2 linked regions of the Homo sapiens genome follow. Each later gene encodes a partner of the first gene's protein in a complex. Each region holds a gene or a part of one and is shown in the gene's direction. Other genes may lie near its edges. The genes, in order: SMARCA5 and RSF1.

Region 1 (16,117 bases):
GCACAAAAAGAAGAACAGCTTAAAATTGATGAAGCTGAATCCCTTAATGATGAAGAGTTAGAGGAAAAAGAGAAGCTTCTAACACAGGTATAGCCTTTAATCAGTACAAACTTTAGTAACAGTTTGTTGTAAAGGACTGTGTTAGGTTATGTTGGGGCATAAAAATAAATACAAGTTTCTGCTTTTAAAGATGGAATAATTGGAGACAATAAAGTATGGGCATGTGGATAAATGCTCCATCTGATTGTCACTAGTTGAGGTAGTTGAGAAGACTACAGATTTTATTACTCTGGCTCGGTAGAGTGGGTATCTTTTTTATCACCTTACTTTGAATGTTCCCGTCTTTCCTATGAATTTTCCACATTGCTACCCAGTCACCATTTTCAACTATAAATCTTGGCTTGGTTATTTTTTAAACATCCTTTGGTGTTCATCAAGGTCTTTCAGAATCTGGCCTTTGACTTACCTTTAAAGCTTCATTTTCCTTCCATTTTTCTACTTGCTCATATTTTTGCCCTTTATGTTATTCACTCTTTCTGGCCAACTGCTAGTAATCCTTCAAAGCTCAGTGAAACTGTCACCTTTTCATACAGTATTCCTTACTCTCAGCCACTCATATTTAATTGCTTGGGTATTTGAGCAATATATAATGTGTTGTCAAAAGTGTATATTTATGTACACGAAAAGTTACCACTCTAAAAGAACTTAATAAACTAGTGAAAATTTGTTTTTGTAATATTTAGAAGGTTTGCTAATAGCATGTTTTCCAAGTTTAATGTGCTGTGATTAAATATTTTGTTTCTGTTCCTGTGAAGGGATTTACCAATTGGAATAAGAGAGATTTTAACCAGTTTATCAAAGCTAATGAGAAGTGGGGTCGTGATGATATTGAAAATATAGCAAGAGAAGTAGAAGGCAAAACTCCAGAAGAAGTCATTGAATATTCAGGTAATTCTTTTAAGCAGGCTGTTGGAGTTTAGTAAGAGCTGTTGGAAGGTTCTTGTTTTCTTATTCTGAATTATGTTGTGATTAGCTAATTTTGTCACAGTGTAGTTAGTACCTTCTTCATTATTTTTTACAAATTAGAAAATGTTCTGTTTCCAGAAATGGCGTAATGGTTTCCTTTTTAAAAATTTTTTAACCCTAGCTAACTCTAGCGACAGCAAAGAAAATCAGAATAAGTCACTGGATAATTGCCCTTGCATTTTTATCTTAATTTCTCTGCATAACTTCAAGTATTATGTGTTGTGTTTCCTGAAGTCAGTTGTATTATTAGGTTAACATGTGAGGGTATGCTGTGGTGAGTCTGCTTAGAATAGCAGAAATTTAAGAATTAGAAGATAAATAATCCAGTTGATCCCATTTTTTTTACATTAAAGAAATAAAAATATAAATGATTTGTTTACTTTGTCCAACTTTTACAGCTGTGTTTTGGGAAAGGTGCAACGAGCTCCAGGACATAGAGAAGATTATGGCTCAGATTGAAAGGGGAGAGGCGAGAATTCAAAGAAGAATAAGCATCAAGAAAGCACTTGACACAAAGGTAATTTGCTTGTTAATAAGTTAGGTAGTTAATAAAATAACTCCTAGCTGTGAGTATGAGAGAGTGACTTTTTATAAAGGAAAAGAAGTAAGGGTTTACAATTTAAAATTTCTTCAGAGTAGCATTCAAACATGGTATTGTCAGCAGAATTTACCTATACACTAGACTGATAGATCTGAGTCAAAGACACTAAGATTAGCTTTTTACTAAGTAGAATCAGGAAGTCTTAGTCTGTATTTCTCTTTATAATAATAAAGACTATAAAGGTCTTTCGGGACAAAGATTATATAAAGCAATTGAAGTGCTCTAGATAGAAAATTCTGATTTGAAATGCAACATTTTAGCTAATTATACTAAAGCTGAGTTTGAAATACAGATTATATAGGATTTGTATTTTATATAATATAAAATCTGACTTTCATAGATTGGACGGTACAAAGCACCTTTTCATCAGCTGAGAATATCATATGGTACTAACAAAGGAAAAAACTATACTGAAGAAGAAGATCGTTTTCTGATTTGTATGCTTCACAAACTTGGATTTGACAAAGAAAATGTTTATGATGAATTGCGACAGTGTATTCGCAACTCTCCTCAGTTCAGATTTGACTGGTTTCTTAAGTCCAGAACTGCAATGGTGAGTGCTCAGGGCTTTTTTGTGTAATGTAGCAGAGTTCAGAGTAAGTGTCATCTTTGGTATTCTTTAAGGTGACTTTAAAAAAATCTATGAAGTAGACTTTTGTTACAATATTGTTAGTATCATAAAACCTAATACCAGGGATAGCTTACAAGTTTATTGGTCCTATCCTTTAGTATCTTACGTCTTTAAATATCACTATATGATAAGACTAGCTTTTCAAGTTCTAAGTGGGAGGAAGTATCAGTTTCAACTTCTGAGTGTTACGACTTTTTGGTTTTTCAAATGAACATATTTCTATAAAGAAAAATGGTCCTTGCATTCAAGCATCTGCACATCAGAATCAGCATTCTGATTTATTTAATATAAATCATCCAGAGTCTGGATTATTTTAAGATGGCTTATTATAGTGAAACACTACTTTTGCACTGATTTAGTGCTAGGTTTTGTTTTTATTCCCAATATCTGACTAACAGTTTCTGACCAAATAGCCCCATTTCTAATAACCTAAAATTTGAATTCAGAAAAGTTTAACTTTGATGGATTGCTCCTTTTCTTCCTTATTTCACCACCATTGAACTTTGAGCTTCAACTTGTTTTCTGCCAGATGAGGATAATGCTAATAAGTTCTTTAGTCTTAAGTTTGGGATATTCTGGGATAAGCAAAGTTTAAACATCTTTGTGTTTGTTTATAGTAAGATTTCTCTGTATATTTAAAGTAAAATGTCACTTTGTAAGACAGTGGATAGTAAGCAGTATTTTCATGTTTGACCACTGAAAATTTTTTTTCACTAGACATCACTGTTTGTGATACCCAAGTTTGGGAAATGTACTAAACTTAAATACATGAAGATACTTTGAAGATAAAACACTGTATAAATATATAATTAGAGAAAAGATCCAGTTGCTGAAAGCTTATTTCTTCTTAAGTGGGAACAATTTATAGAGTTAATAAAGAATAATTTTATAGTGATTGTAACAAGACAGTGCCATGTTAATTTAACTAGTACAGTACCGTAATTTAAAACTGTGTTACTTCTTAACATGTTCCATGTTAAGATGCACAAAAAATGATAATGTATTCTTCTATCTCTATATACTATTTCTAAGTCTTGTGTGGTGTATTCTATACAGTAGTATTTTAAAATTATTTTACTGTAGTTGTGTGTGTAGTAGTATCACTTACTATAAGAAAAAAATAATTTTGCTCTATAAGAAAGGGGGCTGCTACCCAGCAGCCGTCCGTGCAGATGGACTTCTGTTTCTTTCAGGGTTAACTGCTACTTCTATGTTATACTTTAAATCTTTTCTGGAGGCTGTATGTCCAGTTTGCCAGAGAGAGATGAGGTAGAACTCATCGTAGACTTCCATGGCTGGTTTTCCAAAATTGGGAAAGGTGCCATGTGATTGATTGACTACCATAATTCTAGTGATACTTTGAAGGGAAAGATTATACACACCTGTTAAAGTTCTTGTTGTTTTTGACCCTCACATATGTGCACTATTAATCTTTTTAAGTTTTGGATATAAGTAGCACAGTAGTTCTCAGACATACACACTAAGTAGCAGTATTGCATATGTTCATTTTTATTGCTTTAATTCCTAAGTGAAGGAAGAATTTTTGAAGAATACACAGTAGTTTGGCTTTAAAGATTGGAGTAAAAACATTATTTACAAATATCTTGCCTTTAATCTTCATAGCATGAATTGTATATGAAAATCAGTTGTTTTTTTTTTAAATCAGGGGTGTATTAGTGGTTTTATATATTATCCTATTAAAACATACCTTGTTTTAAAATTGAAATCATGAAACTTGTGGATGGAAAGTGCGTGTACCATGTTTGTTTATAATTTAGGAGCTCCAGAGGAGATGTAATACCTTAATTACTTTGATTGAAAGAGAAAACATGGAACTAGAAGAAAAGGAGAAGGCAGAGAAAAAGAAACGAGGACCAAAGCCTTCAGTAAGTATTCATGAATATGTAAATATGTGGATTATGTAAATTTCCCCTTTCTAAGTATTTAACACTGCTTGGCTGTCATTGATGTGTTAGTCCCTGTTGTGCACCCCTCCATTGCCTTTACTTTTTTTTTTTTTTTTTTTTCCTTAAGGGAGAACCCAAGCTCATAATTTGAGATTCTTCCACTTTCAAATTTAGGTAGTGGTATAATTTTTAATTTTTAGTTGTTATGAGTAAGTATGTATTTATAGGTTACATGAGATACTTTGATACAGGCATGCAATAAGTAATAAGGACATCAGGGTAAATGGGGTATTTATCACCTCCAGCATTTATCCCTGTTACAAACAGTTTAACTCTTAGTTATTTTAAAATGTATAATTAAATTATTTATTGCGGTAGTCACTGTGTTGGGCTATCAAATACTGGGTCTTAGTCTCTCTTTGTATTTATTTGTATCCATTAGCCAGCCCCACTTTCCCCCACCCCCACTGCCTTTCTCAGCCTCTGGTATCCATCCTTCTCTCTGTCTCCATGAGTTTAATTGTAGTTTTTAGCTCCCACAAATAAGTGAGAACATGCCAAGTTTGTCTTTCTGTGTCTGGCTTATTTCACTTAATAAACTCCAGTTCCATCCATGTTGCTGCAAATTACAGGGTCTCATTGCTTATGGTTGAATAGTATTCTATTGTGTATACATACCATGTTTTCTTTATCCATTTATCTGTTGATGGACACTTAGGTTGCTTCCAAATCATGGCTACTGTGAATAGTGCTGCAGTAAACATGGGAGTGCACATATCTCTTTGATATACTGACTTTCTTTTGGGTGTAAACCTAGGAGTAGGGTAACTCTTATCTGTAGTTTTTTGAGGAACCTTCAAACTGCTTCCACAGTGATTGTACTAATTTGCGTTCCCACCAAAAGTGTATGAGGGTTTCCTTTTCTCCACATTCTTGTCAGGATTTGTTATTGCCTGACTTTTGGATAAAAGCCATTTTATCTGGGATGAGATGTTATCTCATTGTAGTTTTGATTGCATTTCTCTGATGATCAGTGATACTGAACAGCTTTTAATATGCTTGTTTGCCATTTGTATGTCTTCCTTTGAGAATCATCTGTTCAGATCTTTTGCCTATTTTTAAATCGGACTGTTAGGATTTTTTTCAGTAGAGTTGTTTGAGCTCTTACATATTCTGGTTATTTATTAATCCTTTGACAAATGGGTAGTTTGCAAATATTTTCTTCCATTCTGTGGGATGTCTCTTCACTTTGCTGTTTCCTCTGCTGTGCAGAAGCTTTTTAACTTAATGTGATCCCATTTGTCCATTTTTGCTTTGGTTGCCTGTGGGGTATTATTCAAGAAATCTTTGCCCAGTCCAGTGTTCTGGAGAGTTTTCCCAATGTTTTCTTGTAGTTTCACAGTTTGAGGACTTAAAGTCTTTAATACATTTTGATTTGATTTTTTTATATAGTTAGGGATACAGGTCAAGTTTCATTCTTCTGTGTATGGATATCCAATTTTCCCATTACCATTTATTGAAGAGACTGTCCTTTCTCCAGTGTATGTTCTTGGTAGCTTTGTCAAAAATGAGTTCCATGTAGATGTATGGACTTTACGGACTTATCTCTGGGTTCTCTGTTCTTTTCCACTGTTGCACTGATCTATGTATCTGTTTCTATACCAGCACCATGCTGTTTTGGTTACTATAGCTCGGTACTATAAGTTAAGTCAGGTAATGTGATTCTTCCAGTTTTATTCTTTTTGCTTAGGGTGGCTTTGGCTATTTCTGGGTGTTCTGTGGGTCCATATAAATTTTAGTATTTTTTTTTCTATTTCAGTGAAGAATGTCATGGGTATTTTGATAAGGATTGCATTGAATCTGTGGATTGCTTTGGGTAGTATGGACATTTTAACAATATTGAATTTGCTAATCCATGAACATGGAATATCTATTTTTTTGTGTCTTCAGTTTCTTACATCAGTGTTTTATAGTTTATCTTAGAGATCTTTCGCTTCTTTGATTAATTCCTGGGTATTTTATTTCACGTGTAATTACTGTAAATGGGATTACTTTTTATTTTTCACATTCTTCACTGTTGGCATAGAAATGCTACTGTTTGTTGTATGTTGATTTTGTATCCTGCAGTGTCACTGAATTTGTTTATGAGTTCTAATAGTTTTTTGATGGAGTCTTTAGGTTTTTCCAAATGTAAGATTATGTCATTTACAAATAGGGCAATTTGACTTCTTTGTTTCCGATTTAGATGTCCTTTCTTTCTTTCTCTCGTCTGATTGCTGTAGCTAGGACTTCCTTGAAATACTTAAAAAGTACAAATTTAGCTTGACTGGGTTGTGTGGGAAAAATCACTTCTTGATGATATGGTAGTCCTTAATATGGGGCTTCGTGAAAATCAGGAAAGTATGTCTCGTAAATGTCAAGTGTGTACACATCTCATTGAGAATACAAGTTATAATTTTAGAATAATTTAAGAAACATTGGAAAAGCAGTGGTATTATGACTTTTACTGTTAGTCTCTAAGCTTTGATTATTTCAGTGATGTTTTAGCAATGTGAAGGCAAACACTTAAAGGGAAAAAATGTTATTTAATAATAGTTAATTTAATAAAAAATGGTTAATTTATAAAGTCATGAATAAATGAGTATCTCTGGATAATATTTGGTACTTATGTAACTGCCTTTTAAAAACTCAAGTGTTTCTTACTATTTTGGGAAGCTTGCATTTATTTGATATTGATCTACTACTGTTAATTGTGCATTAGTTTTATAACGTCATTATTAACATTAACATTTTTTATTCTGTAAGTAAAATAAGTAGGTAAGATTATTTGGAGGCTTTATAGTTTGCTTTGAAAGATTTATATAGCCTGGGGGAAAAGTCTCATACCTATTACTTTGTAGTAGTTGTTATTACTAAAGTGTTATAATGTGTCTGCAACTATATTTCATGTTTATATTAGTCTTGTGAAAAGTAATCCTTCTGTCTGTTTGTAGACACAGAAACGTAAAATGGATGGCGCACCTGATGGTCGAGGAAGAAAAAAGAAGCTGAAACTATGAATATGTTTTTGTTTCATAATCACTAACTTTAAACCAGTAGTTCTTTAATTTACGGGTCTTCATAAGATGTACTGTACAATGCTCAATTGTTATGTCATTTAAAGACATCAGGTTCATCTGTTTACTGAGCTAGAAACATAGTATGTAGTTTCACTTTTTTAAATGCAACAGCTGTGCTGAAATTTTTTTATCATTAACACTTGAAGTAATAAAATAGGCTTCATTTATTACTAAGTGTTTCATTTGATTTATTTTTCTATTGTAGTTCCATTTGTGAAGATTGTGACTTTTTGTTTATTAGCTATAATTTCTACACTTGTAAGGCTTAAAAACAAGTTAAAAAGAAAATTGCAAATAACATTTGTCCCTTTCAGTCTTCACCTAGTTGTGTAATTATTTTAATTCACTTTGCCTTTGCAGAAATTTGGGTATTTTCTTTGTAGTGCTATTGAGTCTCATCTGGAAAGATTATATAAATTGCATTCTCCTTGCTTATGTGGGTAGAATGGGAAAAGAAGGCAAGACAAAGTATACTTAAATTCTATGCATATTTCTGTTATGCTTTCTGTTTTTTTTAGTTGATTCTGAAATGAATATGCCCTATTCTTTTGAAAGAATGGCCTTTTAGTTGTATAGCCAAAGACATTTAGTATTTTCCGGTTCCTTAAGGTATTACTGTACCATTTTGTAAAAGGAATATTATTATTATTATTTTTAATTATTTGGTAAATATTTTGTCATATGACCTTCTGAAGCAGCCACAACTTAGATAATGTCAGAACTAAGGTGATTTTTTTTTTTTAATTTTGAAAGCCCAGCCAAAATGAGGTGTGAATTTGTCATACTGTTACATTGAAATTGGTAACAAAATATATCCCCTCCCATTTGGACTTTTAGGGTAAATGAAAATTTTATTGTATTTTAAAGTAGTTTCTAAGTGTTAGCAAGACTGACTATAATTCCAGTTTCTGTTTTCTATGGACAGACCTGATAAACTGGAGACCCTAAAGCAGGAATACCCAAATTATAGTGTCAGGATTTTAGCTGTACCAGAGGCCTTTATGTGCTACACATAATTTGTATAAAATTTTATATGTGCAGATTGGGTACATAAACAGTTCTCCATTTTTCTAAGGGAATGCAATAAATGTAGCATCGTGAATAAATATAACTTTTATAATCCGTAAAGTGGTCTTTTCTTTCCATTTCTTTAATTGTTTTCTCAATTTTTATTCACTTTTTCCTTTAGGACACATTTCCCTTAATTGGATATCTTTCCCTTAAATTTCTATTAGTAGTTGTTTTCATCTGCCCACATGTAATTGAAGATTTAAAAAAAAAATTTTGATACCTGCAGTATTACTAATACTGCTTAATTTCTTGAAATGTGGAATTGCTGCTGTTAATGTCAAGCAAAACGCAGTATTTATGGCAAATTGTAAAGTAATTTGAATTTAGTGCTACCTCAAAATTAACTTTTTAAATACTATGTTAGATTCTTAACAGTTAAAGGTCTAATACATGCATGAGGAATGGTTACTTATGAAAGGAAAAAGAATTTGTAAGAGTTATCACCTCAGTTTGGAAGAAATTGAAAAAATGTAAGGCTGAAGAAAACTTACGGAGGTCACAAAAGTGATGTTTTCAAGAGGAGGAGAAACTGGGAGGGAGATACACAGTGGAAATGCAAAATGAATCAAGTATAGTGGTAGCCCTGAGAGCTTAGGGACTCAAATGGAAACTGTGTGAAGGGAAACTCACTTGAAAAAAAAGCATGAACCAGCTAGGCCCTGCCACCACTGTGTTTGGCCAAGTTCACAAATCTGTTTTAACCTGTCACTTCCCTGTCACTTCTCTGGCTTTCCTCTCCCGCTAAGCTTTTGTTTCCTGGCAGTAATTAAAATCTTCTGTCAGTGCCACAGCTACTACTGCTACTGGAACTGCCTTAACCACTACTGCTACTGGAACTGCCTTAGCCACCTTGGTATCGTGGTTTGGCAAAGTATTGGCCTCTACCACCATAGGGCCCAGAGCTTCTGCCTCCAAAGTTTCCTCCCTTCATGGGTCCAAAATTTGAAGACTGATTGTTGTCATTGCCAAAATCATTGTAGCTTTTACCACCTCCAAAATTGCTTCAATCATTACCAAATCTATTATAGCAATCCCCACTGCCACCATATCCATCACCACCACCATGGCTGCCACCAAAGCCACCACGATCACAGAACTTGATGACTGTATTTGTGACTAATTGTATAATAGTTTCTGTTCTGTGGAAAGTAAAGCATTCCAACACAGGGTTTCAGTGTAGATTGTTTTGTTTTGTACCCATGCTGTTGATTGCTAAATGTTTTAATAATCTGATCATGATACTGAATAAATGTCTTTTTTTTTTTTTAACAACAAAGCATGAAAGATTGCTTAATTGTACATCTGACAAAGTGCTGGAGGCTATTATAAAGTGTAATTATTACTACTTTTAAGAGACAGGGTCTTGCTCTGTCACCCAGGCTGGAGTGCAGTGGTGCAATCACAGCTCACTGCAACCTCAAACTTCAGGGCTCAAGTGATCCTCCCACCTCAGCTTCCCAAGTAGCTAGGACTACAGATACCACGCCCAGCTAAGTTTTTTTAGTTTTTGTAGAGATAGGGCCTTGCTATGTTGCCCAGTCCGGTCTCAAACGCCGACTTCAGGCAATCCTCTTGCGTCAACCTCTCAAAGTGCTGGGATTACATGTGTAAGCCTACATTCCAAAGTGCTGGGATCATAGTTGTGAGCCTACACCACACCTGGCCTACATTTTGTTTTTCATAAAGTTGAGAGAAGCAAATCCTAAGCATAGAGTACAAGTTGAGCATCCCTAATCAAAAAATCTAAAATCAGAAATGCTCCATAATTTGAATGCTCATTAGGGCATTTCTGATTTTTGGATTAGGGATGCTGAACTGATAAGTATAATGCAAGTATTCTAAAGTCTGGAAAATGCTAAAAACACTTCTGGTTCCAGGCATTTCAGATAAGGATTGCTCCATCTGCCCTTTGAGTATTTAATATATGCCGATTGTTTGAACTAATCTGGATTTAATTATATAAATGATTATATAAATGATCTTTGGCTTAGTACCTTTCTTAATCTCGATCTTAAAAAGCATTGTAAAACACCCCTGTGGTTTTTCAGAAAAATTCTGAGTAAAAAATAAATTTCATCTTGTTCTATCCCTTTGAATCTAAAAAACAAATCTTTTTGAAAGGATGTGCTACTATATTTCAAACCAGTAGTTTTGGAGTAGAACATTGCTAAAAAAATGGGTACTAAGGAGGGTAATTTAAACAAAGTAGATTAATGACACAAGGTGGATTGATGAACTCATAAATCCAAATGAATGGAATGCTAGAAGACATGTATTAACGGAGTAGCTGTTACCAAAATATATACATATTTTGTATATGTACATAGCTGTTACCAAAATGTATCTTTGCCTGTTGGAATCTGATGTCAAGATCAAAGGTGAGGGCATCCCTCAGATGACAGATAATGGGCAAAATACATTCTTGGTGTGGAGCAGTGCTGCAGAATTAACTTCGCTGTGTACATCCCAGAATCGTTTTGGATCTGTTAAGGTTTTTATTAGAATGATTAAATAGGCTTTTGCAGCATTAACTTTACAGTAGTTACCAGAAAAGACTATGCTACAAGAACCAAAATTGAAGTAAGAAGAAAAAGACTGAAATGATATGATTCTAAATGAAAAAAATGAAGAAGTGGAATAGTTTCTCCACAGGCATAAGAGGCAAAGCATTGTTTCAGAAGTGGACTGGCACCTCACCTGAGATACTCAAGACTGGCAACATGGGTCTACATTCTTTGTTACCACAGATTCCCTTGTGTCCGGAGAGATTCCCTAGCTCTAATGACAGCTTTTTTGGGGGGTAATGAGGCTATGAGAAGATTGAGGATCTAGGTACTTGCCTTTAACTCTACAGCATACAAGGTGTGTGGCTCTTATCTCTAGGACACCAATATTTAATGTTGCATATCATGTATCTCCAGTACAAGAAGAAAGTTTATCAGAATTTAGTTAATGTTGGAAACTTTGTAATATAAACAATGTAAACACTACATTGACAAAAATATTTTATTAATACAAAGAATATGCATATAGTTTGCTTACTACAGAAATTCTTGTTTTTGATGTAGACAACCCAAAGGAGTTTTTATGTATATAGATTGTGAATAAATTGGGAAAAGAAATAGAGATAAGTAGAGATTATTTCACTTCATTAAACTTTTGAAGTCCTAATTTAGTTCATGTGATTATTTGTAAACTTTTCTTTATTAGTCTTCCTCAATCATTGAAGAACCCAGGATTCAAATACAATACTTAATGGAAACACTTTTTCATCCCAAACTAAATCCTGCCCTGAAAGCCGAATTCACTATGAAATCTGAGATGAAACTCCAAGGCTATTATGCTGGCCAGTGGAAGGTTGGTTCACCCCTCTTGAGGTGACATTAGGGTGGTCTGCAGACATCACTGGAGTGGACAAAGAGATGCCTGGGTGGTTGGGGAAAGGACAGATCATAGACAACAGTAGCCTCTTTCTAGAGCTCAGTTGCAATAAATACCACAGTTACTCATCAGACACATTGGCAGTTCTACTTATTCCCATGTTTCAAAACTAGAGAATTCTAGCAAGGACTAAGCACTGCTTCTGTAGACCATCGGTATTTCTCCATGGCTGTTTGAATTTTTGTCAAAGCTTCTGTGTCTCATGCACACTAGTGACTTTTGAGACAGAGTCTTGCTCTGTCACCCAGGTTGGAGTGCAGTGGTGCGATCTAGGCTCACTGCAACCTCTGCCACCCAGGTTCAAGCAATTCTCCTGGCTCAGCCTTCCGGATAGCTGGGACTACAGGCATGCACCACACCTGGCTAATTACTGTATTTTTAGTAGAGACAGGGTTTCACCATATTGGCCAGGCTGGTCTCGAACTCCTGGCCTCAAATGATCTGCCTGCCTCCGCCTCCCAAATGTTGAGATTACAGGTGTGAGCCACTGCATCTGGCCTGATGCAGATTGATAATTTCTTGAGTGAGGCAGTGCTGTTGCCTAGTAGCAAGGCTTAGCTGGGTGAGACATTACTAGCTGCCTTCAGAAGCGGATCTCTGCCCTGAAGTTTACCAGCCTGCTTTCCTTGATGCCCATGCTGGCTGGGTGTAGGGATCCTGAGTGGAGGGAAAAAGAAGAATAGATGATACAGATTTGCTGTGCAAAGGCGGAGTTCTTACTGGCTCTTCCTCACAAACAGGCTGGTGATTAGCTGACTTTCAGATTCCCTTCTGGGAGGTGGCAAGGGGCCATCTGGTCATCCTAGCTTTGCAAGGAGTAACTTTTTTTTTTTTCATTTTATATGCCCTTTAATCCCAGTAGATGGATAGGTTTGCTTTCTTAGTATGCTTTCCAGTTGTAGAAAGGTCTTTTCTCTGGGTATTGGCTTTCCCCCAGCCTCCTATTTTTTGCGCTCCCCCTCCTCCCCAGCCACCTCTTTCCCTGGGAGCCAACTTGATAAAAGTAATGGCACAAGTCTTGCAGAATACTCCTACCAATCTAAATGCTGCAGACGCCACAGTGCTTTTTTCTCACCCTTAATAGTCGTAAGATAAGTTAGAGGGAGCTCCTTCAAGAGTACGCTGAGTTTAGTTTCTTCACAGCAGGAACTAATCTTTAAAAAAAATTATCATTGGGCTCCTTATTGTAACTGGACAGTACTGGAACTGGGTGGGTGCTTGATAAGAGAATGAATAGTTTAGGTAGTTACAATGAAACCACAGGCACCTGTAGAGGTCTCCCCAGGCTCACCTTGACGCTCTGATTGGCGGCTGCAGACCCCATCCGCGAGATGGCAGTGTTAGGAACAAAGGTGAGCTGCCCACTGCAGGTCAAACGCTGCCGGCTACCAGCTGCAGCTGGGAGTGAAAGACTAGAATACAGAAAGGCGCAGGCAGTCACGTAGGACTAGGCCGGGTTTAACACCCGAACAGTGGTGCTAGAAGGTCAGAGTCTTCTACGTACATGTTGGAAACATCCTTGATTGTCTAGCACCAAGACTTTTAAACACAGGGGGACAAATCATCACTTTGGGTATTTGTAATTGTTCGTCAGTTCAAATCTCTTGGTTTTAAAAAAATACTTTCCCTCTGCGCGACTGGCGCGTCACGTCGCGCGCGACCAGTCCGCAGGGCTCCTCCCGCGCTGCTGATAGGCCCGCAGACGGCGGCCCAGCAGAGGAGCGGAAAGCATGGTCCGGGGGGCGGCGGACGCCTGGTAGGCGCTCGGGCCGTTGTTGTGGGGCTGCGCGCTGGCGCTGCAGGGCGGGATGCTGTACCCAAGAGAGAGGCCGTCGCGGGAGCGGAAGAAGCTGGACCGCCTCTGGAGCTTCCGCGCCGACTTCTTCGACAAACTGTGCCTTGGCTTCTAGGAGTAGTGGTATCGGCGTCTGCTGCGAGAGTCGGGCTCCACCATGGACATACCGGTTCCCTCCAGCTTCAACGACGTTGGCCAGGACTGGCGGCTGCGGCATTTTGTAGACCAGATGTGGTACGAACGGGAGGTGACCTTCCTGGAGCAATGGACCCAGGACCTGCACACAAGAGTGGTACTGAGGATTGTCAGTGCCCACTCCTATGCCATCGTGTGGGTGAATGGGGTCGACGCGCTAGAGCATGAGGGATCTACCTCCCCTTTGACACCGACATCAGTAGCCTGTTCCAGGTGGGGCCCCTGCCCTCCCGCCTCCGCATCACTATCACCATCGGCAACATGCTCATCTCCTCCACCCTGCCACCAGGGAGCATCCTCGACATGGCCGACACCTCCACGTGGGTACCATCCTGCTTCCACCGCAGACACCCACCTTCCTGTCCCACCCCGTGGGGCATTACATTAGGGTAATTACATTAGGTAAGTCACATATCAGTGACTTACAAATTTTGTAAGTAATTAAGAAATTTTCAATAAGTGTGGAGCTGAATATTTACATGAGCCCTTCAAAAACTGATAGTTAATGGAATAAATGAAAATAACAGGAGAGACTTTGTTGAAAGAAGACAAAATAGTCAAGGAAGTGATAGAGGATACAAAAGAAAGATGAAAACTTACATTCATTTAATGTCTAACCGTGTGCCAAAAGACAATATTATTATTTAGTTTTCATAACCACAACATTTGGTGGATATGATTGCTTCCATTATATAGGTTAGGAAAGTAAAGCTTAGGGGTTTGTGAACCCACTAGTTTAAAGTTGTGTAGCCAATAGGTGGTTGAGTGAGAATTCAAAACTGGAACAGATTTGCTTGATCCAGAATGGTATAACTTTATTGTCCATGCATTGTCTTCTACATTTTACTGCCTGTAAAGTGGGAGTCAGTTATGGGAGGAGACCCAGAATGTCACAGGTTTTGAAAGCTGCTGTGGAAAATTTGGAAGGAGGCATTGGATTTAATGACTGATACAGGTCAGTGCAGATTGACCTTGGAGAGAACAGTTTTCTTCAGTGGCATGGTAGTGTTCAAAACAGGATCTGATGGTAAAGAAAATGTAGAACCAGTGTGTGTAGACTCCTTGATGGAAAAGTTTATTTGTAAAATATCAGAGGAAAATTATAATATAGATTTGTCCATTCAAACCCCAAAGTCCAGATTCTTACTGCAATATTTGATGTAGCCAATATACAGCAGTTGAGTTCAATTTTGGCCCCTGTTTATGTGTATGCTAAAGAAAAATAACAATCCTAAGCCTATGCCACTTAAACAAGAGGATGTGATTATACTATGAAACACTTGTGACCATAGGAATATAGCAGTGCTAAGGCAAAATAGGTCTTAACTTGACTTTTCCTGTCATTTGCTGCCATTGTTTGCCAAAGGTCTAGCACCTATCTTCAGAGGAAAGTCAAGAAATTAGTGCTCAGATGGTGGGATGAATTCCTGAATTATTGTTGGCTCTAGTAGTTTCTTCAGATCAATTTTATAGTTTCTTTAGAACTAGAAAATTAGGTCTCAGAATGGCAGTTGGCCACCCAATGTGTATAATACAATTACTCAACCAGCTGCTTGAAAGCAAGGGGCAACAGAGAAGTCAGCTACTGGCTCAGGCAACAGGAAATTTGATGATACTCCTTGGTCAAATCCTTCATTTAACATACATTTATATAGAACCTTTCTGTATCAGGCACCATTCTAGGTACCACAGATAAAACAATAAAGAGAACTGACAAAACCTCAGCCTTCATGGAGTTTATATGCTAACACATATGCATAAACAAACACATATAAAAATCCAGAAAGTCGTTACTGCTGTGAAGACAAACAACACAGAGTAAGCAGATACTGATGTTGGGTTGTTGCCTTAAGGTGGTCAGCAAAGTTGTTTCCGGGGAAATGACATTTGGATGAAAAACTGAATAATGTAAGAGAGTTAACCATCAAACATCTGTGTGAAGATCTTTAGGAGGAGTGGGGGAACCGCAAGTGCAAAAGCCCTGTGATGGGAAAGTGCTTGTTATGTTTGAAGAACAGCAGTAAGACACCATGGCTGGAGTGTAGTGGGGGAGGGAGAGAGAGGTGGTAAATAATAATGGAGACTTAGTTAGGGCCACATCATGTAAATAGAGCTTTTACAGTCTTGTAGACAAGAAATATGTTTTGATTTTTCCCTAAGTCCACAAAATAGTTTGTGATAGAAAGCCATCGAAAGATTGAAAACAGGGGAGTATTATTTGTAACCTCAGTTGCTGTTCCATGCAGGCATAGGAAAGAATAATGCTTCCTTGCTCCATATCTATTGCTGAAACAGTTCTCCATGATCTCTTTAGTCTGAGGACAAATGACA
Region 2 (14,159 bases), on another chromosome or scaffold:
CTTCATATTGATGGAATTGTACAGTACCTAACTCTTTTGTGTCTGCCTTCTTTTACTCAACATGTTTTTAAGATTCACCCAGGCTGTAGTGTATATCAACAGTGTGTATTACTCTGAGTAGTATATCACAATTTATATTTTTCTGTTGATGAATATTTGTGTTGTTTTTGACTTTTTGGTATTTTTAATAAATTAGCCGTTAATTCTAATTGAGCAAAATATTTCCCCCTAATAGGACATGAAATTTGAAATATCTTAAGAAATTTCTTATTCATAAACAAAGTTGAACCAAGTGTAACTTAATGCTTATTTAAAGGCCTCTTCATGGCAGTAGCAATAAATCAAATACAGGTTTTAAAAATAGCTACTCTTTTTTGCACCTTTACATTCCAGTCTGATAAATATAACTCACTTATATAACTACATAAATTGTCGTTAAGCTCTGTATTCCACAATTTCTCTTAGCCCAGGAAAGCAAGAAGTGATGATAGCATTATGGGTGTGTGTCATTTATTTTCAAGAACAGACTTTAGTGAAGGAAGGCATGCTTAAACCTTGCTTTGTAGCAAAACACTTCTTATCTTTGGGTGGATATAACTTTCTGATGCCAAAGGACTCTGTTTCCCTGCCGATCTAGATTAGAAAAGGCAGAAACTCTAACCTTTATTTATCAGTCTGTTTGACTAACAGTGTGAGCAGTGAGAAAAGAAAACTATAGTAATAAAGCTTTTTTTTTTTTTTAGAATGTTATTTCACAACCTCACTGGAATGTGGGAAGTGAAGTGCTGCAAAAGCTAGAAGCAAAGATAGAAAGTACAGGCAAGGTTCACATAATAAATCTTCCTTTTAGGTTTGAAGGTTCTTTCCATAGAAATTCCTTCACAAAGATACAATTTTATTTTAAAATATCCTGTACCTGGCTTTTATTTAAGGTCAGTTAAGTAACCAGTATATGAAAGTCTTTGTATGTTTCCACAAAACTGTTGTTAAAACTGTATTCTGGGTCAAATTATTCTTTTTTTTTTTTTTTTTTTTTGAGACAGGGTGTAGTTCTGTCGCCCAGGCTGGAGTGCAGTGGCAACTACATGGGATTACAGATGAGGTCTCACTACCTTGCCCAGGCTGGTCTCGAACTCCTTGGCTCAAGGGGTCCTCCTGCTCGGCCTCCCAGAGTGCTTGGATTACAGGCATGAGCCACCCCACCTCGCCCAGATTATTTTTAAACTGGAGTCTTCAGGTCCCCAGGGTCAAGAGATATACACTTGCCCGTTTGGGAATTCTATAAAAATGTTTTAGTTTAGTTTTGTGTTTCATTTCAGTAATTGCTTAAAAACAATATTTTCCGACTTATTAAATTAAAACTTCTTTGGCAGTGATAATTCATAACCATAAAGATATTTTCCTGAAGTAGGATTTTAATTTCTTTTTTTTTTTTTTTTTTTTGAGACGGAGTCTTGCTCTGTCGCCCAGGCTGGAGTGCAGTGGCACAACCTTGGCTCACTGCAAGCTCCGCCTCCCGGGTCCATGCCATTCTCCTGCCTCAGCCTCCCGAGTAGCTGTCTACAGGGGCCCGCCGCCACCACGCCCGGCTAATTTTTTGTATTTTTAGTAGAGACGGGTTTCACCGCGTTAGCCAGGATGGTCTTGATCTCCTGACCTCGTGACCCGCCCGTCTCGACCTCCCAAAGTGCTGGGATTACAGGCGTGAGCCACAGCGCCCGGCGGATTTTAATTTCTTAAAAGCTTTTTTATTGTCGTAAAATACATGTAACATAAAATATGCCATTTTAACCACTTTAAGTGTATACTTCAGTGGCATTAAGTACATTTACAGTGTTCTTTAGACTTTGATTTCTTACATCAGTATTTCTTACAGTGAAATTTTCAAAAGTATTTGCCAAGTTTCAAAAGAACTTTTTTCCTTTAAAAACGGTTTGTATACCACTCAAGACTATGAATCACTATTCAAGGCAATAAATTCTTCTTACAATATAGAATTTTTCTCTTGATAAATTGAGTATTCTTTCTTTAGATAATGGGAATAATACACACCCTTATGGTTTTTCCCCTTTTTAAAACCTGGAAATGAAGAAAAAAATTCGGTGTTTGTGTGACCATTTTCCCTGTTACTCATATAATTATTTGCCCATCTATTTCTTATCTTTCTATAATTACAGATTTCTCTTTTTTACATGGTTTGTGTTGTACCTTGCTTCAAATTCTTTTTTTTTTTTTTTTTTTTTGAGGTGGAGTCTTGCTCTGTCGCTCAGGCTGGAGTGCAGTGGCGCGACCTCGACTCACTGCAACCTTCGCCTCCCCGGTTCAAGGGGTTCTCCTGCATCAGCCTCCCAAGGATTCCCGGCTAATTTTCGTTATTTTTACTAGAGACGGGGTTTCACCATGTTGCCCAGGCTGGTCTGGAACTGCAGAGCTCAGGTGATGCACCCACCTCGGTTTCCCAAAGTGTTGGGATTACAGGCATGAGCCACCGCGCCCGGCCAAATTCTTTTTAGGAATTAGGTACTACATTGAGTTTTAAATGCACTCAGAAAATTCTCAAAGTAATAAATTATAGACTAAATAAATATAGCGGAATTCAGTCTAAATTATAGGAACTCCTTTTTTGATAACTAATATTTTTAAAGTACTCACTATGTGCTACGGCACTGTGCTAATCACTTTACTGTGATTTATCTAGTAATACCGTATGATGTAGGTACTATTATCACCCCACTCTAAGGAGTTCAAAGAAATAAAGAAACCTCCACAGTGTCATGAAGTAGCCCCGCTAGGACTCAGGCCTGGCTGAATCCAAAGCTCAGGCTTCTAAGCATAACGTGTACTGCTGCTTCTCAGGCTGCACATTCTATTTTACATTATTGGTAGTTTCTCTCTGGCGTTCTTTGTGGGAATGTTCACTGCCCCCGCCCCGCCCCGAAGTGGAACCCTGTCTTCTAACAAACTTTTCGCTGCTCCACCGTCTCCTGTCATGTTCCGCCTCTCAATGGAGTCCCAGCCCACACTCCGATTCTGGTCCCTGAACAGAGCCCCTTCCCCTCACACCATGGCCCCCTAGCAGAGCCTGGTCTCCTCAGATCCTCTTCTCCCAGCAGGGCCCCAACTCCTCACTCCGACGATTCCCCCAGAGTTCCGTTCCCTCAGATCCTGCTTTTCCAGCAAAGCTGCGATTCCTGTACCCCAGCAGAGAGCAATACCCCGTCGGCAAACTTCCACAGAGACATCTTACCGAGGTCCCAGCCCAGCCCCTAATTAAGGGCACACCTCTACCTTTCCCCTTCCCAACCTTCTCCCACAACTGTGCTTTCCCCCGCCCTATTCCCTTTTTCTGTTTATTAATTCTCCTCAACCTCTCCACCATCTCGTGGCCCAGTTTCAGGATTCCCCCGCAAACTCACCCACCGCACTGTCTCCTCAAAGTTGCGTTCCCAAACGGCGCAGTGCTCTGCCCGCACTTACGCTCCCAGCGCTGCTTCGGGATCTGCGCTCCCCAACTGCCCTCCGGGAATACGCCCTGCAGTTGAACAGCGCCCGAGGCCCCGCCCCCTCTGCGTCCATTGGCCATTGTTCTCGAGAAGTCCCGCCCCTCCCGCTTCCAGCCCGCCTCCCCGCCCCGCTTCCCTTGTTTTCATTCCCCCTGTCACACGAGGCAGTGGCAAGCCCGAAGGGGAGGAGAGAAGGGGGCGGAAAGAGGGCGGAAAGTGAAAGGCGCCGAGGGCCGCTCTGTCTCCCGTCTGACTCGGTTCTCGACTGCTCCGGGCCGCCGATGTATTGTGGGATCGCGGAGCCGTCCCTGAGACGCTGGGATCCGCAGAGGAGCCCACTTGAGAGCGCCTCCTGTCGTCTGTAAGGTTGCCTTGCCATCCCTCGGCACCACAACTTCCCCCGCCCCCCCATCGCCTCCTCCTCCATCCTCCAGTTCAAAATGGCGACGGCGGCGGCAGCGGCGGCGGTGATGGCTCCTCCGGGCTGCCCGGGTTCGTGCCCCAACTTCGCCGTAGTCTGCTCCTTCTTGGAGCGCTACGGGCCGCTGCTAGACCTGCCTGAGTTGCCGTTCCCTGAGCTGGAGCGGGTGCTGCAGGCGCCGCCGCCGGACGTCGGCAACGGAGAAGGTAAGCGAGGGGCCCGAACGCCCGGCGGGAAGCGGCCCTGGCGCTCTGCTACTCTCCGCTCTTCACAGGCGCCCCGGTTCTTCGCGGCTCGGGCCTCCGCGGCTCTGTCTTCCCCCTGGGACGCAACTCCGCCGGGCTGGTCTTCTCCGCCCAGCCCCCGGGGTCTTGGGCAGTGGGGAGGCGGGGCGGAGGCCCCCTAGGGCCACTCGGCCGGGCGGGGAGCTGAGGTGGAGGCGTTGCGGGCTAGGTGTGGGCTGGAGGCGGGGAGGGGTCATTGTGCCGGTCGGCAGCCCCGGGGACTGCTTCTCCGCGGCGGAGGGCGGCCCCCCACCCCGTCTCCCCCTTGGCGGCGGGGGAAGGGGAGCGCAGGTTCCGGCCAGCTTTGCGCTTTTCTCCTCCTCCCCACCCTTACTCCCTCCCCTCCTCCCACCAGTCTTCCCGACCATCTCGGGGAAGGCTGGGCTCGGCTGCTCCGGACACCTCCTTATCTCCCTTCACCTGGGTGGGCGGGGGCCAGCGGACACTCAACTCTCCCTCCCTCTGTTGGGAACTCCCCTGAGAGATTTGTCCCTTTTCCCTTCCCCTCGAGGGCTGCTTTAACCCCTAAAACTCCTTCCTTGAAGTGGGGAGGTCTGCTCCTCCCCCACGGGAGGGGGTTCTTCTCCATTCTCGGTAGGGGGGCGAAGTCGGTTCAGCTCCACTGTGGAGAGGAGAGGGTTAATTCCTCCTCCATAGTTCTCCTTCCTCTCCCCACCTCCCCCAAAATAATAGGCGAGCATCTCCCCACTTTTCCAATCCCTTCCCCCTTCATCTTGGCAGCCGGGCTTAGGCGAAGAAGTCGTCTCCCTCCCATTTGCACGGTAGGGTGGGGTGGTTAGTATGTAAGCTGGAGGAGGGGCTCTGACGGAGGGGGAAACAGTTGAAGAAGGTGCTTGTTGCTCATGTTTCTCTCTCTGGTGCCGCTGGTCTATTATTGGTGTTCGCAAGTGGTGCTCCTTCCACATAAGGCCACCGCGCGGGTGCAGGGCGCATGCTCTGCCCGGCCCCATTGAAACTTCCTGCTGCTGCTGCTGGTTCTTTTGCTGGAGCATCTCAGCGCTGCGCCTGCTGCCTCCAGCCTTCACACTGAGTGCTTATACTCACCCCCATTTATTCCCGATCCCTGCCTCTCCTTTTCTGGCACTTTTCTTTCCTCAGAGAAGGCTTTTTTGTTATACTCTGAGCATTGCCTTTATCTGGAAACAGCCCTTGGCTGGAGAAGAAACGTTTTCCAAATAGGTCTCTTTTTTTGTCCATATTAGCTGGCCAAAGTGGATTGGTTATTGTACAAGACAGATAGCTGTTTCCTTTCCAAGAAAGCAGGGTCGCTCTTCTATTCTCTATGTAAATGAAGAAGTTTCTGTTAACTGAATTTATTTGCATTGCTAGGAAGCGCCAAGTATGAAGTTCTTCAGAATATTACCTATAAAGAATCTGTATGATGTTATGGCTACCGAAGACTCAAATTAATACAGCAGTTATAATATAAGCCTAGTAATCTGTTCTTACCTGTCCACATTCCCTCTACCTGTAACAAACTGGCTTACAAAAGGCTAATTTAAAAAATAGTACAAAATAGGAGGGTGACTAATTACATTATATAAAGGCTTCTCACAGAATTTGTTTAAAAATTAAGCTCCCATTGTAGTAATTTCATTATCAAATTGTATTTACATTCTTTTTTATATTTTTTATTTTTATTTGTTTTTTGAGACGGAGTCTCACTCTGTTGCCCAGGCAGGAATGCAGTGGCAGGATCTGGGCTCACTGCTACCTCCGCCTCCCAGGTTCAAGCGATTCTCCTGCCCCAGCCTCCCGAGTAGCTGGGATTACAGGTGTGCACCACCGAGCCCGGCTAATTTTTGTATTTTTAGTAGAGACGGGGTTTCACCATGTTTGCCAGGCTGATCTCGAACTCCTGACCTCGTGATCCACACACCTTGGCCTCCCAAAGTGCTTTACAGGCGTGAGCCACCAAGCCTGGCCCGTTTTTTAATTTTTAAGAAGGTAGTCATTGTGAAGTAGGATGCCTTAGTAAGTTGCTTTTAGGATGCCTTGGGAAGTGATAGTAATGTATCTCTCAGAGAACGAACTGTGGGCATTTGGGGAAAGGATGGCTAGTAAATTGTTTTGGTAATTTCTTTGGACCAAGTTGAAATGCATAGGTTTTCTGGGATGGCGTGGTATTTTGGGTAGTATATGAGATTGCTTGAATCTACATTTATTTTAGGTATTTTGACCAGTGCATTTAGTTTATATTAATATCACAGGAATACAATATTAGAGTCAGTTGAATTGAATAGTGGTTCACTAAGTAAGTAAAAATGACAGGTAACCTGGGCTAAGAAGGATCATTTATTTCAGCCACTGCATTACCGTTGGTATAGAGTTGCTAAGGGGACTGATAATAATAGATCCTATCATAAGGTGATCTTAGAATAATTATTAATTAATGTTACACAGTTCAGAACACTTGGCAAATGAGAAGTCTCTGCAGGTGAAATGCTGTTACTGTGCAGGGAAACGATTTTCAGAACTTTGATGATGAACCATGATATCATCATCAAAGTTGGCTTGTTGGGTGAACCTCTGTCGTTTTATCAGCTATTACAAACTTTCAGCCTGTTTCAAATAGCTGATAAAATGATAGTGGCTCAGCCAACAAGATTTGAACTGAGTCTTTTTGGGAAAGAGTTGTAGTGTACAAGAGTTAAAAGACATGGATTTAGTTCCTTGCAACTGTTCTCTGAAGTTGATAGTATTATTCCTATTTGGCAGGCATAGAAACTAAGGCTCAATAGATTAAGGTGCTTAAGAGTCTATAGTTAATGGTAGAATATGATTTCCAACCCAAGTCTGAGTCCAAAGCCACAAAATTATATACCTTGCCATAGTATCATGGTTTCCAAACTGCACCAAGGCACCCTAGAGCATTGTTGCCAACTCCATCTGATAGTTTAAATTTTCAAGTAGGATACAGTGGTAGCCGAAATTTGCTGGTTGCCAGGTGAGCTACTGCCTTGACATACTTCATGGTTTCAAGGTTGTGCCACATTTCTATAGATGATATGTCTTTGTGAAGCTGGTTTTTTAGCGGTTGCTGTGGTAAAATTCACAAAAAAGTCAGTATGCAGCAGGAAAGAGGATAGCAGGGTCCACTCTGATTCCAAGGTTTGAAAAGTTGTGCAGTGCCCAACAGTAATACACATTTCACAAGTAATTATGGTTAAGAATGAAGTAAAAACATTATTTGTTGAAATTTAGCTAGGTTATTTTTTCACATGGCTACTGACTACTTAATAAGTGGAAGTGTTATTATTTCTGGCCTAGGGCTGCTGTGAGAAAATTACTGAGATACTGAGGGTGCCGTGAAGCTAGAATGTTTGAGAACCTTTGCTCTAGAAACTATCATTGAATTTCGGGGCAAGAAAGAAGGGACTATTGTGTCATTGCCTTTATTTTTCAGGAGGAAAATCAAGCTACAGAGAGAGATTTCAAGTGTATACAGCTAACTGTTGGTGTTAGTCAAATTCTTATTTGAAAAGCCCACATATATGCTGAAATTGTCAACAAAAAATTTAGATTTATAGTTGATACTAGTTATAAAAGGATGTGCCAAATGAAGGTGGTGTTTTATCCTCCTCTCCCTGCAGTCTACTTTAGTCCTCCCAATTCTGTGCTTTGTGTGGACTTCCCCAGGTTTCTCCTAACTGGAGGTAGATGATGGTGGTTATGGATAAAGTTGACGTTGACTTTGTGAGATCCCTGACACCCAAGGCTCCTAAGTATCTTTCCTCTCCTGCAGAGAATATTTCTTTTCAAGAGGAAACTATACTACTGTATTCTTTAAAAACAGTCTGGATATTGGTTGAGATGTTACATATATCTAATAAATTTATTAAGGTAAATACAGATAATGTGTTAGGATTCTCATAGTTTATACTATGGTTGGCTGAATTAGTTGTATGATATTAAGTAAGTTGAGCCATTAGTTTTTTGTTTCATTTTTGCATTTAATGATTTGAATTTTAACTCGAAGTGAAAATATCAAAGTTAAAAAAATGCCTTTTTAACTGGAATTGTAACTATAACTTACTATGGTCTCTCTTACTGGTACTGTAACTGATCTGTGTGTAACAATATATTTTTAGGTGCATTTGATAAAGTGGAAAGGTGATTACTGTAACTGGGGCCACATGTGTTGATTTAAACAAAAGATTTTACCAGGTGCATGTACTAGAGGTTGCATGAGTCTACAGTGGTAGACACTGGTAGGGCATACATACATTAATAGTAGTATTGCTGGGGCCAGAGCCTGGTTAGGTTGAAACTTTTTAGTTGTGTCTCTTCTGCCTTTGAAAAAGCAAATATTCTTTAGGGCACTTATTAGATGAAAAGAGAGAAACAGATTTCATCTCCACCATTTTCGATATGTCATAGAGTAAAGTTACGGAGGTTTGGAGGGAGGTTGTTGTCATTGTCCTAGGAACTAGGAGGTAATGGAGACAGAGGGACTTGTCTGGCTAACATGAGCCTGTTAATGCAAACTGGCTTACTTTTTAGTCTTTTAATGATTAAGAAGTTTGCCTTAAATTTAGATGTTTTGTTAAGTTCTTAAACAGACCTCACCGGTAAGAAGGTAAGCAAGCATTTATTAGTGAGGTTATTCACTTAATATATATATTGAGCATCTGCTATGTACAGATGTAGCTACAGTAAATATTGTGGGGATTATTTTTTTAAAAAAACATTAAACATGAGCCTTTTAAAAGAAATTTCTAATCTAGTAAGAAATAGCTAAACTGAGCTTGAAACTAATGACATCATTCAAAGACTTAGTTTTTTTTCTCTGAGATTTTATCAAGTGGAGCAATAGTCCGTGCATTCTAGTCTACAGTTGTAAACTAAAATTATCTAACAATTTTATGGTGAGATGTATGACCACATGCAATATGAAAAAGAATAATTCAGGCCTAAAGTACATGTTAAACTGAATCATGTATTCAAGGAAGACAGTTATGTGTGTTGTTAGATTTAATAAAATTTTACTCTACCTGATGGGTATAGTCTTAATATATTATGCTTGGCTTTTTTTGTTTGTTTTCTGTTTTTATTGTAGAGTAGATCCCACAAAAGGTATTAGGGTATTTTCTATTTTCTTTTAAAAACATTTAATTATATGGGCAATTATAATGTACACTTTGTAATTACATATGTTCTAGCAGGCTTTGATTTTTAATTTGTTTAGCTTTATATGGTCATATCTGTACGTTAGGTTTGCATTAGCTAACTTTTAAACATTTTTGCTCGCTCTTGTACTGTTGGGCACAAGCAGTGCCTCCAGGCAAATTGATGCCTAAACTAGAGAGAACAGCAGGCATTCTCTCCTTACTCTTCCACTTCCCCTTTACTTCCATTTCCTGATCCTCATGTCTGAAGTCACACCACCTTTAGCCATTTGAAGGGGCTGCTTCTTCCATTTTACGCTTTCTTTCACTTGTATGCCATAAAGTGCAGTGCCTGCTAGCTCCAGTGTGCTCTGTATGAGGTTTGCACCAGTGTGTTAGGAAGAAAGGAGGCACTGAAATTAAAAAAAAACCATATTTTGGGGGTTTCCAAGTCACTAAACAATTGAACCACAATAATAGAGGAAACTGACTTAAACAGTATTAAACTGGTATTGCTTCAAACATTATCAAAGGATTTCTGAGGTGAATGCCTACTTTATAAAAATGTATTTTTTCGGCTGGGCACGGTGGCTCATGCCTGTAATCCCAGCACTTAGGGAGGCCCAGGCGGCGGATCACCTGAGGTCAGGAGTTTGAGACCAGCCTGGCGAACATGGTGAAACCCCATCTGTACTAAAAATACAAAAATTAGTCAGACCTGGTGTCAGGCGCCTGTAATCCCAGCTACTCGGGAGACCGAGGCAGGAGAATCGCTTGAACCTGGGAGGCAGAGGTTGCAGTGAGCCAAGATGGTGCCACTGCACTCCAGCCTGGGTGACAGAGCGAGACTCTGTCCTTTTTTTTCCCCCCCAGAGTTAGGGCCTTGAATTCCTGGGCTCAAGAAATCCTCCTGCCCCAACCTCCCGAGTAGTTGGAACTACAGGCACATGCCACCATGCCCAGCTAATTTTTAAAAATTTTTTTGGTAGAGAATGAGGTCTTGCTGTATTGTCCAGGCTGGTCTTGAACTCCTGGACTCAGGTGATACTCCCACCTCGGCCTCCCAAAGTGCTGGGGTTACAGGCATGAGTCACCACTTGTGGCCAAAACTTTTTTTTTTTTTGAGACAGTCTCGCTCTGTGGCCCAGGCTGGAGTGCAGTGGCGCGATCCTGGTTCACTACAACCTCTGCCTCCTGGGTTCAAGTGATTCTCCTGCCTCACGCTCCCAAGTAACTGGGATTACAGGCATGCACCACCATGCCTGGCTCATTTTTATGTGTTTAGTAGGGACAGGTTTTGCCATGTTGGTCAGGCTGGTCTTGAACTCCTGGCTTCAGGTGATCCAGCCACCTCCACCTCTCAAAGTGCTGGGATTGCAGGCATGAGCCACTGTGCCCAGCCACTTCTTATTTTTATCCTGAGTTTAGGGATGTGTTAAATTGTATTAATTCTCCATTATCTCTGTGTGTGTGTGTGTGTGTGTGTGTGTGTGTGTGTGTCCTTTTACAAATTATAAATGGCCGCTCTTTGAGGAAGTCGCGGTGGTAGGTGCTGCGGCTCTGTGATCCGCAGGCTCCTGCTCCTTACTCACTACTGTTCGCTCTCGCCGAGGAACAAGTCGGTCAGGAAGCCGTGCAGCAGCTATGGCTTTGAAGGTTACCGGAAAAACACGCGTGGAGCTGGAGGTGGCAGTTCACCGAAATTGAATCACTCTAACGAGCCGCAACATAAAATCCCTGGAAAAGGTGTGTGCTGACTTCATCAGAGGAGCAGAGGCAAAGAATCTCCAAGTGAAAGGACCAGTTCGAATACCTACCAAGACTTTGAGAATCACTACAGAAAAAGTCCTTGTGGTGAAGGTTCTAAGACGTGGGATCCTTTCCAGATGAGAATCCACAAGCGACTCATTGACTTGCACAGTCCTTCTGAGATTGTTAAGCAGATTGCTTCCATCAGTTTGAGCCGGGAGTTGAGGTGAAAGTCACCATTGCAGATGCTTAAGTCAACTATTTTAATAAATTGATTACCAGTTGTTAAAAAAAAATTATAAATGGCAGACTTGATCCCATTCATCATTAGACTACTTTCATGTTTTGCTCAGAATTAAGTAAGTTTTAATATTCATTTAAAAATACTTATCAAATAAATTTGGTTTCTCTCAAAGTAAGTTGTGTAAGATATTCTGATTTTAGCAAATTATTTCATAATTTGTGCCTTTCTGTTAATAAACAGAAGAAGCAGGGATGAGGTGGTGGGGAATTTGCAGTGTTTATTTAATCTTACCAGTTTAGAGGCTGGACAAAGAGCAAGAATTAAAAGTTATGCTTAGAATGTTTGTCCAAAATTAAGGTGATCTTTTCAGTGTAAGAACATGAGTTGTGAGGGCACAGCAAGCAGAAACTACACCAGACTGATTTTTTTTTTTTTTTTTTTTTGAGATGGAGCTCTGTCACCCAGGCTAGAGTGTAGTAGTGCGATCCCAGCTCACTGCAACCTCTGCCTCCTGGGTTCAAGTGATTCTCCTGCTTCAGCCTCCTGAGTAGCTGGGACTACAGGTGCCCGCCACCACGCCCAGCTAATTTTTTTGCATTCTTAGTAGAGATGGGGTTTCGCCATGTTGGCCAGGCTGGTCTCAAAAACTCCTGACCTCAAGTGATCTGCCTGCCCCGGCCTCCCAAAGTGCTGGGATTACAGGCATGAGCCACCACATCCAGCCCAAACTGATTTTAAGAAAGAAGAGCATGAGGGCAAAACTTGACAGCAGACAGACCAGGCTTCAGCCTCCTGTAGTTGAACAAGGATTGCTTGAAGAGCAACATGAAGTATATAATGTATATATGGCTCATGTAAGCAAGAGTTCCTCCAGAAAGCTTTCGTAGTGGAGGTTGAGTCTGTATTTAATTTTAGACTCTAAGCTTTATTCTCCAGTATTTGTACATGTTTATCTTAATCATTTTCTGAATAGTAGGATTATACAGTTTTTTCCCTTTGGTTTTTCTTATATTTTTTCACATTTCATTTTCTATGTTAATTGTGCATTTCTTTGATAATCACCAAAAAACTATTTAAAACTAGATTTCTAAAGAGGCTTTTTAAAAGGAAAATTGAATTTCTGCTTGTATTTATGTACTCTTATTTTTATAGACAGGGTCTCACTCTGTCACCCAGGCTGGAGTGCAGTGGCTTGTTCTCTGCTGACTGCAACCTCTACCTCCCAGACTCAGGCGATCCTCCCATTTCAGCCTCTCAAGTTGCTGGGGACTACAGGCATGTGCCACCACACCCAGCTAAAAATTTTTTGTATTTTTAGTAGAGACAGAGTTTCATTATGTTGCCCAGGCTGGTCTCAAACTCCTGGGCTCAAGCAATCCACCTGACTCAGCCTCCCCAAGTGCTGGGATTACAGGCGTGAGCCACCAAGCTCAGCCTATTTATTTATTCTTAATCTTGAATTACCTCTTAAATGAATGTTACTATCATCTACCCAAGTCACTCAGATCAGAAACCAAGGAGGCATCCTAGACCTTAGCCTCTGACACTTTCTTTGATACCAAGTTATATTGAGTCTGTTTATCCCCTTTTATATTCAACCTTGCTTTTCTGTTCTCATTGCTAGTTTTAATCACGCCAAACTGCTTTTACATCTCTGAAGATGTGAAAGGTTGTTTTACATTTATGCTTTTTCTTCGTCCTCCTGCCTCTGAGTCGAATATACCATCCCCATCTTCCTTCCCTTGCCTGCTCACTGTACCCGTCATTAGTCTGCTCTTTAAGCATCAAATGCTCTGTGGAAAATTTCCTTCTTTCTGTCTCTCAAGTTAAATTAACCACTTCAATCTCCTTACCCTGCACGTACACTTTGTAGATTTTATGCCACAGTACTCATAACACTTTTTGCAGTTACTGCCTAGCCTACAAGATGGTAAACTCTTTGAGGACAGGGTTTCTTACTTTATTTTATCACCAGCAATTGGTGGGTAATAGCAAATATGTAGTAAATGTTTGTGGAATTAATAGTTTTCCTCAACTTACTATAGGACCATGTTCTGCTCTAAAACTTTGAAGTTAAAGCCTAGTCTGTGATAGCTTAGTACAGTGGTGGGCAATCTACAGCCTGTCCTCTCTATCTTTGTAAATAAGGTTTTACTGGTATACAGCCATGTTCATTTGTTTACATTCTGTTGTCTGTAGCTGCTTTCACACAACTGTGGCAGAGTTGAGTGATGGTCACAGAGAACATATAACTTCAAAACCTAAAGTATTGGGCTGGGTATGGTGGCTCATACTGCAATCCAAGCACTTTCGGAGGATTGTCTGAGTCCCAGAGGTTGAGGCTGATCATGCCACTGCACTCCAGCCTGGGTGAAACAGCAAGACCCTGTCTCAGAAAAAAACAAAACCCAAAACCTGAAGAACTTATTATCTGTCTAGCCCTTTACAGAAAAAAATTTACTGATCTTTATTCCAGTGTATGAAGATGGAAGTCTTATCAGATGATGATCTCTGTTTTTGAAAATACATTTAGAACCAGTATAATACAAATTTCCAGCCTCGCCAACATGGTGAAACCTGGTCTCTATTAAAAATACAAATTAGTTGGATGTGGTGGGATACACCTGTAATCCCAGCTACCTAGGAGGCTGCCACACAACAATTGCTTGAACCCAGGAGGCAGAGATTACAGTGAGCCATGATTATGCCATTGCACTCCAATCTGGGCAACAGAGGGAGACTCCACCCATCTCCCCCCCAAAAAATAAAAATAAAAAGGAACCAATATAATACAAATTAAATGCCTAGAATGTCCTGTGAATGAAACTT

Evidence for each region.
Region 2: SMARCA5 (region 1) and RSF1 share a complex: the UniProt entries of both Homo sapiens proteins name them as parts of the RSF-5 ISWI chromatin-remodeling complex.

The regions. Positions count from the first base shown.
Region 1 is NC_000004.12:143,545,961-143,562,077, forward strand, and holds the end of SMARCA5 (SWI/SNF-related matrix-associated actin-dependent regulator of chromatin subfamily A member 5), read left to right. Parts: coding exon 1-87; intron 88-815; coding exon 816-948; intron 949-1,424; coding exon 1,425-1,543; intron 1,544-1,967; coding exon 1,968-2,180; intron 2,181-4,036; coding exon 4,037-4,144; intron 4,145-7,158; coding exon 7,159-7,224; 3' UTR 7,225-11,526; downstream 11,527-16,117. UniProt on the Homo sapiens protein: ATPase that possesses intrinsic ATP-dependent nucleosome-remodeling activity.
Region 2 is NC_000011.10:77,810,499-77,824,657, reverse strand, and holds the start of RSF1 (remodeling and spacing factor 1), read left to right. Parts: upstream 1-3,935; 5' UTR 3,936-3,943; coding exon 3,944-4,130; intron 4,131-14,159. UniProt on the Homo sapiens protein: Regulatory subunit of the ATP-dependent RSF-1 and RSF-5 ISWI chromatin-remodeling complexes, which form ordered nucleosome arrays on chromatin and facilitate access to DNA during DNA-templated processes such as DNA replication, transcription, and repair.